Homo sapiens: one gene and its partners. The protein of the gene in region 3 purifies or fractionates together with the protein of the main gene of each other region. This does not show direct contact. Each region holds a gene or a part of one and is shown on either strand. Other genes may lie near its edges.

Region 1 (3,473 bases), 3.9 Mb from region 3:
ATATCAAAAAAAAAAATACATAAAAAAAAATAAAGCAGATTGGGCATGTTGCCTAAGCAGAGGGCACGTGGTGGTCACGCCCCATCAACTTGGGTTCCTTTGACTCCTGTAGACTCTGTCCCTACCTGTGGTTGTCATCGTCCACGGCAGCCAGGACCACAATGCCACGGCTACTGTGCTGTGGGACAATGCCTTTGCTGAGCCGGTGAGTCCCCGTGGGAGCCCTACCCCAGCACCCCCAGGCCCTAGGACTCACCTGGGGTCAGCCCCACCCCTTGGGCCCCTGCTGAGTGGTCCTTCCTCACCCCAGGGCCAGCCCAGAGGTGAGGTGAGGCCAGAAGGGCTGGGGTGCTGGGCGCCTGCCTTCCACCATGGCCTTGGCACTCTGGGTTCCAGGTTCCTGGACTGGGGTCTGTGAGGACTGTGAGCTTGGTCTTTGGATCCTGGTCTGGGATCCTCCTTTGGCAGATGGCTTGGGTCCTTGCTCTCTGTTTTCTGTTTCCTGGTCTGCATCTCTGTCCCTGCATGCCCCCACCCCCTGCATCGGTTTTCTTCCCTGCAGGCTGGGAAAAAAAGTGCAAGCTAGTATATAAAAGCCGCCGCATTTCCTGCCCTTGCATTTGTGTCACCTTTCTGGATCTGTCTCAGTCTCCTCTGTCTCTAGGTGTCTGTGTATCTTGTGTGTGTGTGAATATTTCCAACTCCCTCAATCTACCTTTTCCCCTCTCTTGTCTCCCTCTCAGGGCAGGGTGCCATTTGCCGTGCCTGACAAAGTGCTGTGGCCGCAGCTGTGTGAGGCGCTCAACATGAAATTCAAGGCCGAAGTGCAGAGCAACCGGGGCCTGACCAAGGAGAACCTCGTGTTCCTGGCGCAGAAACTGTTCAACAACAGCAGCAGCCACCTGGAGGACTACAGTGGCCTGTCCGTGTCCTGGTCCCAGTTCAACAGGGTGAGGGGCCCAGCTGCCAGCCGCCCACCAGGGCCCACCGGGGTCTGTTGCTCCTCCACCTCACAGACAGGTTACTGCCTGGGGCTAGCACCCCACTCTCCACCCCCAACCACTCTCTCCTACAACCAGGAGAGATGGGGGCCCCTAGCCTCAAGAAATGCAGGCAGGGGCTATAGGAGTTGTGCTTAGTTGTGAAGCCAAGAGCGAGATGACGGAGGGCCCAGGGCTGGGAGTCAGGATCCTTGGGTTCTGGGCCTAGATGTGTTTGCTAATTTTCTTTTTTTTTTTTAGAGACAGAATCTCATTCTGTCACCCAGGCTGGAGTGCAGTGGCGTGATTTCAGCTTACTGTAACCTCTGCCTCCCGGGTTCAAGTGATTCTCGTGCCTCAGCCTCCTGAGTAGCTGGAATTATAGGTGCCTGCCACCATGCTGGGCTAATTTTTGTATTTTTAGTAGAGATGGGGTTTCACCATGTTGGTCAGGCTGGTCTCGAACTCCTGACCTCAGGTGATCCGCCCACCTCGGCCTCCCAAAGTGCTGGGATTACAGGCGTGAGCCACCACGCCTGTGGCTCTGGCTCTCCTTCTGCCTCTCTCCTTGCTAATTTTTGAAGACCCATCCATTCTCTGTGCCTCAGTTTCCCCACCTGTAAAATGAGGGGATGACTTTGGAGGAATGACTTTGGAGGCCCCATCCAGCCTAGATTATTCTTTACACCTCTTACTCCCACCCTTGGGCTGGTCTTGGACCCCTGTGTCTTAGAAGTGAGTTTCCTCTCTGTTTTCCTAGGGTACAAGTTGGGGGCTGTGTCACTTTATGGTCTGCTGGAGTGTGGTGGCAAGCAGGGGTGAAGAACTGGGAGAAGACTGGGTGGGGGCAGGAGGGCCCTGACTTTCCTGGGCCACCTGTGACCTGGGGCACCAGCCCTGACTCGGGGGTTCCTGGGCCCTCAGGAGAACTTGCCGGGCTGGAACTACACCTTCTGGCAGTGGTTTGACGGGGTGATGGAGGTGTTGAAGAAGCACCACAAGCCCCACTGGAATGATGGGTAAGGAACGGGGGCTGCAGGGTCAGGGGCCAGCTGTGGGCGCAGAGAGACTGTGGCTGTGGCCCAGTGGTGACGCTCAATGCTCCGTGCACCCAGGGCCATCCTAGGTTTTGTGAATAAGCAACAGGCCCACGACCTGCTCATCAACAAGCCCGACGGGACCTTCTTGTTGCGCTTTAGTGACTCAGAAATCGGGGGCATCACCATCGCCTGGAAGTTTGACTCCCGTGAGTGCCCGTTTTGCCCACACTCCAGCCCCAAGGCCCGGTCTCTTGTTCCCTTGCCCCGCCACCCCACCCTCCATCGGGCCTGTGTCCTTAGAAGGTACCCAGCGGGAAGCTTAGTATGAGAGGGCTGTGGCTTGGAAATGTATTCTCTTTCTATTGTTTTCCATTTTGGAGAACCTGAAGTCCCCAGCCCCATAGACTCCAGGACGGCTGGGCGAGTCCTCCTGCAGTTTCACGCTCTCCCCTCTCTGCCACGACCCAGCCTTGTTGGTATCTGCTCATCTGGTTTGCTGAGTAGAACATCCCGCATCGGCTTTCTTCCCTACAGGCTGGGGCTGCAGCGCAAGCTACTATATAAAAGCCCAGATTTCTCTTGCAAGCCTGCCCTAAAGCCCCACAACCTTGGTCCTCCTGCTGCTGGTGGATTATGGGAATGAGGCTGTTCTTTTCACAGCGGAACGCAACCTGTGGAACCTGAAACCATTCACCACGCGGGATTTCTCCATCAGGTCCCTGGCTGACCGGCTGGGGGACCTGAGCTATCTCATCTATGTGTTTCCTGACCGCCCCAAGGATGAGGTCTTCTCCAAGTACTACACTCCTGTGCTGGGTGGGTACTGCCCCAGGACCCTGCCGGCTGACTCCCCCGGGCTCTTCCCCAGCCCATAGACAAAGCCTTGGGCTGCGCCGTGGGGACTTCCCCAGGAGGAGCCTAGGGGCCATGTCCCCTGTGGGTTTTGGCCCATGGGGTGGTGGAGAGGATTTCAGGGCTCACAAATGAGGAGAGGGAACGAGAAACCCGTCCCAGCTCTCTTCTCTGCAAAGTGAAAGCTGCATGGATTCTCACTTCTGCACCCTCGGAGGAAGGGGTGGCAGCACTGTAGGGAGTGGCCGGGATCATTCGAGCCCACAGATAGTGCTCCGCTCCCCACCTCACCAGCTGCTCTCCACACCCTGCTCACAAACCTTCCCCCGAGTGGAGTGCAGGCAGCAAAAGGGAGAAGTCTCTCTTCTTCCAGCTGCCCCAAATCCATTGGTTGGGTTTGCTTGTTGATTCTCATTCTTTGACAGGGGTGGGAGCAGGGAGAGGGAAATCAGATGGCCAGAAAAAGAACCAGAAGGAATGGGATTCAAGCCAGGGGTCTCAGTGACCCTCAGGCAGGATTCATCAGCTGGTGTTTATTGGGGGTCCTTGGGAAATCTCATCCCAGCTGAGAACACAAGGTGATGTGAGCAGGAGGGAGACT
Region 2 (3,500 bases), on a different chromosome or scaffold from region 3:
GCAGGATACGCAAGAGAGTGAGGAAGAAGAAGGTGAGCAGAAGGGCAGCCAAGGTGACACCTAGAGCCACGTATGTCAGTGTCTTCAGTGGCAGGATCTCCCCATTCTGCAGAGTAGGTGGCAGGGGGCCAGGGAATTAGGAAGGGCAGGACCTGAGCACCCAGCCCCGTGCCCTGGGTGCCCACCCACGGCTCTGCAGCTGCCCCTGTGGGCCCGACCTCCCGCCGAGAAACGTCCATGAGCACAGCGAAGCTCGTCATGTGGTTGCACTGGCAGCTGACGTGGCTCTCATTGCGGAAGACGACTTCACAGCCTCTGGCCGACCAGCCACCTGTGCCACTGACCCTGTGTGAGGAAGGCAGGGTCAGGGAGACAAGGAGGGTGAGGCATGCAGGGGCCTGGACTTTCAGCCCGAAGCCTGAGGGGGCGAGGGCAGTGCAGGCTCACAGGATTGAATGGTTCCAGAAGACACAGATGGGCTTGGTCCGCTCCTCTGTCTCCAGCAGGCGGAACTGCACCGTGACGGGTTTGTCCAGGGCCCGGGGCAGAAGCTCCTCATCATCATGGACGCTGATGCTCACCACGGGTGTGTTGATGATCGGGCGTTTGGGGACTCTGATGTGGGGCAGTCAGGTGCACAGTCACCACGGCAGTCACATGACTGGGGAGACGCCCCCGACCCCCTCCATGCCTCAGCACTCACCGCCCGACCCATACCCCTACCCACACCTGTCCCCTAGCTGCTGACCTCAAGCTGCGCTTGTCAGGGTCATAGTTATGAGGCAGTAGCCCGGCCAGGGTGCGGTAGATGATGACGCTGGCCACAGCCTCACCCTGGCTCAGCTCCGGGTGCCGTCGCTGTCGCCGTGCCAGCTCCTCTGGCTCCTGGGCCTCTCCGGGGCCTGCGGGCCTGACCACGGGGGGCGTCTCTGGGAGGGGACACTGTCACACTTAGCTGGGCCCTGCTCTCTGTGGAGTCTGCACAGACACTGGGGTCCAGCTCCCAACTCAATCCATGGCCACCACTGACCTCTGAAGACAGACTCAGGCAGAATGACTGTTGTCTCAAGGTCCGGGGGCTGCTCCCCACGCAGGGCCTCGTAGCGGGGCAGCTTGGCCCCAGCAAAGTTCCCTTTGTCCAAGCGCACTACGGAGATGACTAAGGAAGGGGATGGTCACAGATCGGACCTGTGAGGCAGGCAGGACCCCAGCACAGCCGCTCTTGTCGGGGACTCCCTCCACAAACCCCTCCCCAACCCAGGCACCAGCCTTACCAATGTTGGGCGTGACGATGGTGAAGGGGCTTAGGTAGGTGTGCCGCATGTTCTGGGCCAGGGCACTGGCGTAGGCCTCATAGTGCTGGAGCAGCCAGGCGGTGCCACCCTCTGTCTGCTGGATCAGCTCCCAGTGCCGCTTGTTGGCTGTGTCCAGGAGGGCGCTGCCCACCCGCAGCAGATTCTGGGGTGGGCAAGGTCACGGTGGGTGTGCTCACAACCCACACCTGACATCCCCACCATGGAGCCCCGGCCTGTGCCCGGGCCAGTCCCTGCTCCCCACCAGGCCCCTCCCTCTGTGCTCACTGTTGCCTCCCCTGAAATGCTCCTGGACCGCACTGCCCACTCAGGTCACTGGATGCTCTGCCCCTAAGCCCTCCTCCTCATTCTCTACATAAGAGCTTCCCAGCCCTGTGCCTGGACCCACACACATGTCCTGAGATACTGCTTCCTCCCAGCCCATGGTACCACAGGCAGGCCTCTGCTCTGGGTCAGACCATGCCCCAACACACATATGTTACTATGAGAAGGGTTGGGAAGAGGGCTGGGCCAGGGGTCACAGGGTTTCATGGAGGCCTCCTGCCAGCAGGGAGCTCCTTGTAGGTGGGATGGGAGGGCCCCCTCTGCCCCCCAGGTTGCCATGAGCAGGCTCACTCACCATGACCCCTATCTAACCAGCCAGCCCTGCATCCTCCAAGCCCCACCTCAGTGAAGTGCACGTCCTGTGTGGCAGACAGCCCAAAGCCCCGCTGGGTGCTCTCGTGGGCCAGCAGCCGCGTGGCCAGCTGGTAGGCCACCTTGACGTCGCTGCCGAAGTAGCCAGCTGTGTGCTGCGTGGCGTTGCGCAGGAGCAGGGCTAGCTGCTGGGAGCGCCCTGAGTCTAGGCCTGACTCATTCCGCTGTAGCCGCTCAGCCTAGACAGGACGGAGCGGAGGAGCAGGAGTGAGGGCAGGAACTCTGGAGCAAAAGGACCTCAGGAGGTGAGAGACGGCCTCTCCAGCTGGGAGCCCAGGAACACACAGGCTGGAATTCCAGAAGCCCCGTTCTCAAAGATGGGAGTGGGGGCAAGTGAGACTCAGGACGAAGGACAGGGAAAAGATGGAGATGAGGGGGTTCACTTACGAAGCCCTTCAGTTCTGAGAAGGTGATGGACGTGCAGTTGAAGAGGTTTGGGGGGAGCCACCCCCTGTGCTCATCACAGTGGCGCACAGCAGTCCCTGGGGGAAGGAAGCCAAAAGGGCCGGCCTCAGGGAGACACACAGGAAGCCCCTGAGACTGGCTGAGAGGTTCTGCTGGAGGCCAGCACCTCATGGGCCGGGGACAGTAACTAGCAAACAAGGGCCCTGGTGAAACAGGAAGACAGGTATGTAGAACACCAGGGCCAAAAATCTCCGCAAGATCAGTCCACACATGGGCTCTAGGGGAACAGGGCATACGACCTCCTTGAGCCCCCATCCTGCCTGTCTCCAGCCACCACTTTGTGCTCTCCGCCACTTCCTGCCTATGAACCTGCTCATTGCCAGTCCAGGACCAGCGCCAGCCCCCATCCTGGGCTGGGTGTCCTGGGTCAGCAGCCAACACCCCCTACTCCCCAGACTGTCTGCCTTTGTGGTGGCGTAACTCCAGGACTCGGTGGTGAGCTGACGATTGGAACCCTGCATGATTCATCTTTGAATCTCTAGCACAGCCCTATGCCAAGCACAGTGCAGGTTTTTCAGCATTTTTGTTAAGAGTCCAAGATGTGGGCTGGGCACGGTGGCTCACGCCTGTAATCTCGGCACTTTGGGAGGCCGAGGCGGGCTGATCACAAGGTCAAGAGATCGAGACCATCCTGGCCAACATGGTGAAACCCTGTCTCTACTAAAAAAATATAAAAAATTAGCTGGGCATGGTAGCACACGCCTGTAGTACCAGCTACTCGGAAGGCTGAGGTAGGAGAATCGCTTGAACCTGTGAGGTGGAGGTTGCAGAGAGCCGAGATCATGCCACTGCATTGTAGCCTGATGACAGAGCGAGACTCCGTCTCAAAAAAAAAAAAAAAAAGTCCAAAATGTGGTGGGGTGCAGTGGCTCACGCCTGTAATCCCAGCACTTTGGGAGGCCGAGGCAGGCGGATCATGAGGTCAGGAGTTCGAGACCAGACTGGCCAACATGGTGAAACCCTGTCTCTACTAAAAATACAAAAAAAAAAAAAAAAAAAAAAAAATTAGCCAGGTGTGGTGGCGGC
Region 3 (3,500 bases):
CAAGGACAGATGTAGGCAGCGTCCCACTGATATCATCTAGAAGAGAGAACAAAAGCAAGAGGTTCAGAAATGTGAGCACAGAATGAGCACGCTGAAGGCAGAGGAGAGGGAGAAGGACTATCAGGCTGCCCTCTGGGGCAGGATGGCCCAACCTTCACCCAGTCTTTTTGCACAGAGGGCAACAATCATCTTACTCTGTTTTGCTTTTGGAAAGCAGGGTAGTAAGGATATTCCTAATGCAGCCCAATAGCAGTGGGTTCAAGGCAAGATAAATGTAAACTGAATTAATATATGTATAGTAAGTATTACAGCATGCGGGTGAGACCCATTTAATTGCTTAGGGAGATGACGGGGTGCTGAGAAAGAGCTGGGAAATAATTGAGTCATCATCGGAAACCCAGAAGCGTGGTCGGCCCCCAGCAAAGAACAAGTCCCTGGAGCTCACCCTCCCACTAGGCAAGAAGGTGGAGAGGGGAAGAAACTATACCTAGGAGGCTGAGGCTTCTTCTCGGAGGAGGAGGGGGAGTTGGAGGGTGTGGAGAGGTCAGGCCCCGCTGAGAAATGTCCACATCCACAAGCGACACAGTTTCACCTGAGGGATTCATGGAGCAAGCAAGTTACAGAAGCGCCTTGCCCAAAGCTGATGCAGAAAGCAAAGGGAAGCAAAGGGCAAGCAGGCGAGGCTGGGGGTCTGCTGCTCTCAGAAAGCTCAAAACCTAATGCCCCCAGGGCTGAAATCACCCCAACACCAGGAAGTCAATTTTTAAATTCTATCATTCCTTTGCCCTGTTAAGGGTCAAGGATTCTTTAGGACAAAACCATGGGACTGACAGTGGAAAAACCATCTAATTCTGGTTCCGCCACTGACTTACAACGTACCCTCAAACAAGGGGTCTTCTTTATCCAATAGAACCCATACCATTTATTTTTTCAGAATTGTGTATCAATTTCTGCCTTAGGAAGCAAGCCAAGTGGCTTGTTATATGCCCAAACAGACATGGAAAGCAAGGGCCAGAAAACCTAAGAACTGTACGGTAAGCTGAATGCAGATAAAGTTCCCAATGTTAGTCCTAACTTCTTCCTAGAGGGCAGTCCATATCTTGATTTTCCAGAGTATTCACACATAAGAGAATCTACCTGAATAAGATATCTGTTCTTAACAGCTGAGGCTACAAAGGCTGAAAGTACAATTTATAGTCCTAAAAATTAACTACTTTCACAGTCAGACAAAAGTCAGGTAATCTAAGAGGCAGCTTCTCCATAGGAACTTGGTGGGAGGAGGCACATGGCCTCTCTTCTTCCCAGCATGTCATGCAGTTCTGTTCCCTGCCATATACAATACTCCTTGCCACCCAACTCTGTCTATTCCCTCTCCACTTGAGTCACGAGAGGATGAAAGGTATTTTATTAATATGAACACAAGCTGATAGCCAGGAATACGGTTATTTTGGCAGGCCTGATGCACAAGTCAGAACTCAGGATTTCTCTAATTTAGCCCTTACGGTGTTCCTTCCAACACCTTTTTTTTTAATTCAGGGCTGAATGAGCCCCTCAGCTAGTATTTTAAATGTTTCCCCGTTAAGAAAATGAGGTGACCAATATCTACCAAAGGAAACTGGGCTTTCAGAACCTAAATACACAGTTTTTTTACAAAGCTCTTGAATACTAATTAAGATAAACAGAAAAGCTCTTCTAAAAGTCATCAGTGAGACCAGGTGCAGTGGGTCACACCTGTAATTCCAACACTTTGGGAGGCCAAGGTAGGCGAATCACTTGCACTCAGGAGTTCAAGACCAGCCTGGGCAACACGTTAAGACCCCGTCTCTACAAAAATATAAAAATTATTCAGGTATGGTGGTGCATGCCTATAGTCCCAGCTATTCTGGAGGCTGAGGTGGGAGGATCGTTTGGGCCTAGGAGGTCGAGGCTGCAGTAAGCTGAGACTGCACCATTGCACTCCAGCCTGGGAGACAAAGTGAGGCCCTGTGTCAAAAATAAACAAAAGCCATCAGTGGAAGTTCTAGAAAGCTGGTACCAGACTCACCATACAGCTTGGTAACTGAAAGCCTGGCTGCCCAGAGCAATGCGATGGAGCCAGACAAGTGTATTTCCTGACAGGCCAGAGCAGTCTAGACTATTGGTAGAGCACTTAACATAAAGGACGTCATTCAAGAGGGCTGAGGCTGACCTGAACCTCAAACTACAAATGTAGGTGGTGTTCCTTTTTTTTTTTTGAGACAGAGGCTCAGTCGCTCAGGCTGGAGTGCAGTGGCAAAATCTCTGCTTACTGCAACCTCAGCCTCTCGGGTTCAAGCGATTCTCCTGCCTCGGCCTCCCGAGTAGCTGGACTACAGGCGTGCGGCACCATGCCCCAGCTAATTTTTTGTATTTTTAGTAGAGACGGGGTTTCACACCATGTTGGCCAGGCTGGTCTGAAACACCTGACCTCAGATGATCTGCTCACTTCAACCTCCCAAAGTGCTGGGATTATAGGCATGAGCCACCGTGACCGTGACCAAGCCATGTTCCTTACTTTAATGAGGAAACAACTATTAACTAGAAAGACATGGTATCGCAAGATAAGATTTTTTAATTCTGGGCTTGGGTAAGAACAGAGACCTCCTTCTCCACTACAGTAGATGCCTATACAGGTACCAATTCACTTGTTTTGACAGTTCACAGCAGTCTACCCAGCTGCAAGTCTCATTGGCCTGCTTAACATTTTCCTGGAAGCATCCATTCCCAAATCGTAAGTCTTCCAATCACCTTTTTGAGGGACATGATATCCAAAGGAGTTTGAGATTGGGATTTTTTTTAAAGGCTTCTCAGTCACAACCAATGAGAAGTACTCAGTTTCTGAGACATGGGCAAAGCCCCACTTTTCTCCAGCTTATTCATGCAGGAGCTTCACCTGTGACTGACATAACAGAAGGTCTCCCTCTCTGAAAAAGCTCCCTACGAAACGAGAAGGCAGTTACCCATCATCCAAAGGAGATTCTACAGCCTTCCTAGTTTAGCAACTGTGTTCCCTGCTGCAAGAGGGCAGACTTAAATTAGATACAATAAAGAAGTCTAACAGCTGCAGGAACTGCAAGCCCCTAAAAAGACAAGAGCTCATGTAATCCCCTTTGCCCAAAAAAGTCTTTAAAAATAGACCAGATAATCATGGATCATTTTTATGAGATAACCCATGAACTCCCTTGGAAGCAGAGACAGAAATTGTATGACTTCTAGAGAGTCTTTTATGCACTGTGAGCCCATAAATTTGTAATTCCTAGTTTTAATTTATATGTGATGACCCTGAACTAAGCACTGCATAACTGCTAGGGCCACCCAGGCCACCTAATTACCAACAAGCAGCCTTTACCTCCAACTATAAAGCATCCAAAGTCAAGAACACATTCCATACCATAAAAATAGCCTCACCCCAAACCCACTAAGCATGGAATGAAGGAAATAACTGCAGACACGCCTACAGCTCCCTGTGATGCATCTGTAAG
Region 4 (3,500 bases), on a different chromosome or scaffold from region 3:
AGATTCTCCTGTCTCAGTCTCCTGAGTAGCTGGGATTACAGGCACCCACCACCACACCTGGCTAATTTTTATATTTTTAGTAGAGATACGGTTTCACCATGTTGGTCAGGCTGATCTTGAACTCCTGACCTTGTGATCCACTGGTCTCGGCCTCCCAAAATGCTGGGATTACAGGCATGAGCCACCGTGCCTGGCAATTTTTGTATTTTTTAGTAGAGACGGAGTTTCACTATATGTTGGCCAGGCAGGTCTCGAACTGCTGACCTCAGGTGATCTGCCTGCCTCAGCCTCCCAAAGTGCTGGGATTACAGGCGTGAGCCACCACTCCTGGCCCAGAAATTCTTAAACTTTAACATTTCCTCAACATCTCCATAAACTAGGTGGACATTTCTGTTTTTTCTCATTCTAGTTCCATCTTCTCCCTTTATTTTCCCCTCTGATGCCACTTCTCGTCAAAGCAGTACTGAGGGAGAAGGTCAAACTCTTTCATTTTATTATATATTTGAACAAAAACGTATTTCCAATATGTATACACTCTTGCATCTCTTTGAGAAATTTAATATACAAAATCTAAACTTAAAAAACAGATAAATGTAAGAGAGACAAATTGTTATTTACTTTATAAAAATAATTTGCCACATCTGTTTAAATAAAGAGTGTATTTTCCCTAGTTGAAAGCATTTAAGATGTGATTTGTTTTGAAAAATGTCATTTACACTCAATGTTTAAAAACATATCTATTGTATAAAGAACAATCTAGGTTTATTCACTTGGATTATTATAGTAACCACTGATGAGCTGTATGAAAGTGATAAATCTCAAAATACCTGCATCTCCCTCTTTCTCTTTGGATATGAGGTAAAATATGTTATTAATACTACCTATTTAACAAAAATATGCAGAATGTAAACTGAACACAACATGTGCACTGCTGAATACAACTTAGGAATAAAGTGATTATTGCAAGTTATTACACTTACAAAATGTACACTTCCAAATAAAAGAAGATTATCTAATTATCGTATAATTCAACAAGATCTAGGGAATTGATCTGGCAATATAATATGTTTTGTCTTACATTTCCCATTCAATTGTTCAATTGCCTAGATTGCCCAATTTCCTCATTGTAGCAGTTGTCTTCTGAATATAAATATAAGTCCCATTGTTAATCCAGGGACTTCCAAGCAGATGATGTCACTTCAGTTCACCATCTTACTGACTTAGGATCACACATACATTACGACTTATACCTATTTAGCTGAACATCACTCAGGTGAGGAAGCTAACTTTTGAAGGGTCAGACACCACATTTATTTAATATGCTCCATGAAAAAATTAGTCCAAGATAATAGTAGCACTCTTAGTATACTTTGCCAACAATGACACGGGCCTGAAGAACCCAGCACATGCCACCAAAACGACCAACGATGTAATGTGTACTTAGTTCAACCAGACTGTGAATGATCTGCTATGTCTACAGGAAAGATGGAACGCTAGATTACTTTAAATAGCTCTGACTTAGAGAACATACCTATGAAGATGAGGAATTAAAAAATCTTATAAAGTAGCTGTTCACATTAGTACCAGTATAGGAGACAGCCAAAATCTAAGTTATAAACAGGTAATGAAAAATCCTCAAGGACTAACTGAACCATGTTTCTCCCTACCTCACTTGTCAACATTCCCAAGTTCTCTCTTTACTAACTGCAGTTCTTTCAGGCACTTATAATCATCAAATGCAGTTCAAAAAGAAATATATCCAACAACAAGAATATTAAAAAAGAATTTCAGTCTTCTGTATGATTAGAAACTGTTTCAGCCCAACAGTCAGGAATAAAAAGGATTTAAACTAATAAACCATTAACTGAAAAACTGAGAGAGATGTAGAGAAATGTGAATTTAAATGTAAATTCTGCCATCAGGTAAATATAATATAAAGCTAGTAGTTATAAAGAGGAAGTTACTCTAATTACTTCTAAGTTGCTAGGCCAAAAATTCCACAATAATAATTCTACCTCCCAATTGTTGTTTTTCAGAGGTACTGAGTTTTGCCTAGTGCTTTGGTGATGCTTCATAATGTTTACAAGACACCATGCGTCCACTCCATGGAAATAATCATCAATGAGAGAAGCAACATCATCCTAATCAGTTGCACAGTTAAACAAAAAAAAAAAAAAAAAAAAAAAAAACGACATCACTGAAGTCAAGAAGCACAAAATGACAAATGGTCAAGTTCCAACAGCTAAAAAGATCCAAGACATTATGAGCTTTTAATGAGTGAAACATGCCATGAGAAAGAGACCTTCTGTCAATAAATCCAAATCCTTGTTCACTAATTAAACCATCTTATACAGTGTCTGAATATGTAGACACCAGACTTCAACATTTCTTAATTATATTCAATTCCAGGCATATTTTTCCATTTAATTGACATTCTGAAATGCCTTTACAGTCCTATCAGATAGGTACCAAATTCTCAAGAGAGATTACCACACACTTCTGAATTCTTATTCATTTGATTGAAACTGTTATTAGCAAAGGTTTTTTTTTTAAGTGGAAAGTGTGGGAAAGATTCACACCCCATTCTATCCATAACATGGGCGATGTTAAAGTCATCTGCATTTGGCCCACTTTCATGTGTACATTTCTTTGCAGTGAAGTTCTCCATAGCCAGGCCAATCTGAGAAAACCCTAGCTGCAAAATCCACCCTAGCATGGGACGGTACCACATGAATCACATAACACACTGCTCACCCAATCACAACAGCAACTGCTATCATTAAGCCACCACTTAGAACCAACAGAGAATTTCAAACCACAATCAAAAATAGATTTCAGAGGTCCAAAATATTGATCACATAGACTTAAAAAATCAACAAAATGTCATGTGTGATAAATGCTCTAGGTTTCAAAAAAGACCAAGCTGATCCTGCTACCAAGATATAGCCTCATTTTGCTTTGAAAGAAAACACACACAGACTTACATAGAATTTATCTGACAAAAAAAAAAAACCCTGATATTTATACTGTCATTAAGCACATTTGTCACTAAATTTAATCTGTGTCATCTGGCATACTCTTAGATGTTTACAATTATCAAATAATGTTCAATGATATTTAGTAGCATTAATAATTTGGGGCTTATCTCAAAATATAAAACATCAATAGCTGCTCCAGAGTGCTCACTTTTTGACCTTCCATGGTACTGAAAAGGCTACAATTTTTTTCAGATTGTTTGGAATTTAATTTAGTTGAAGTCCTGAAGTTACAATTAAACTTCCACTTAACCTTTCATAACTGTGCCTCATTCAACAGCTGGGCTTATCTCCAACATCTCAAAAAAGAAAAGAAAGAAAGAATTAACTGAAATATTATTTGCAACTGCTCTGAAAAGTACAAGTAGGATCAAGTCATAGAGAACGTCCAAGGTAAAAGTCTGCCTTTTCACTCACATTCTGGAAGCTAATGTTACTTTGTAAGCCATTTTTTACAAATTTTTT

What was found. Proteins that work in one complex are often made in the same cells at the same time.
Region 1: the proteins of SOCS7 (region 3) and STAT5A purify together in Homo sapiens (affinity purification with western blotting, with the first as the bait; one study listed by BioGRID). This does not show direct contact.
Region 2: the proteins of SOCS7 (region 3) and CELSR2 purify together in Homo sapiens (affinity purification with mass spectrometry; one large-scale study listed by BioGRID and IntAct). This does not show direct contact.
Region 4: the proteins of SOCS7 (region 3) and FAT3 purify together in Homo sapiens (affinity purification with mass spectrometry; one large-scale study listed by BioGRID and IntAct). This does not show direct contact.

The regions. Positions count from the first base shown.
Region 1 is NC_000017.11:42,305,498-42,308,970, forward strand, and holds part of STAT5A (signal transducer and activator of transcription 5A), read left to right. Parts: intron 1-112; coding exon 113-205; intron 206-743; coding exon 744-950; intron 951-1,904; coding exon 1,905-1,999; intron 2,000-2,095; coding exon 2,096-2,226; intron 2,227-2,680; coding exon 2,681-2,836; intron 2,837-3,473. UniProt on the Homo sapiens protein: Carries out a dual function: signal transduction and activation of transcription. Mediates cellular responses to the cytokine KITLG/SCF and other growth factors. Mediates cellular responses to ERBB4.
Region 2 is NC_000001.11:109,266,539-109,270,038, reverse strand, and holds part of CELSR2 (cadherin EGF LAG seven-pass G-type receptor 2 precursor), read right to left. Parts: intron 2,492-3,500; coding exon 2,397-2,491; intron 2,189-2,396; coding exon 1,979-2,188; intron 1,459-1,978; coding exon 1,275-1,458; intron 1,160-1,274; coding exon 1,031-1,159; intron 930-1,030; coding exon 749-929; intron 616-748; coding exon 448-615; intron 346-447; coding exon 219-345; intron 107-218; coding exon 1-106. UniProt on the Homo sapiens protein: Receptor that may have an important role in cell/cell signaling during nervous system formation.
Region 3 is NC_000017.11:38,361,844-38,365,343, reverse strand, and holds part of SOCS7 (suppressor of cytokine signaling 7), read right to left. Parts: intron 593-3,500; coding exon 488-592; intron 37-487; coding exon 1-36. UniProt on the Homo sapiens protein: Substrate-recognition component of a cullin-5-RING E3 ubiquitin-protein ligase complex (ECS complex, also named CRL5 complex), which mediates the ubiquitination and subsequent proteasomal degradation of target proteins, such as DAB1 and IRS1.
Region 4 is NC_000011.10:92,231,318-92,234,817, reverse strand, and holds part of FAT3 (protocadherin Fat 3 isoform 1 precursor), read right to left. Parts: intron 1-3,500.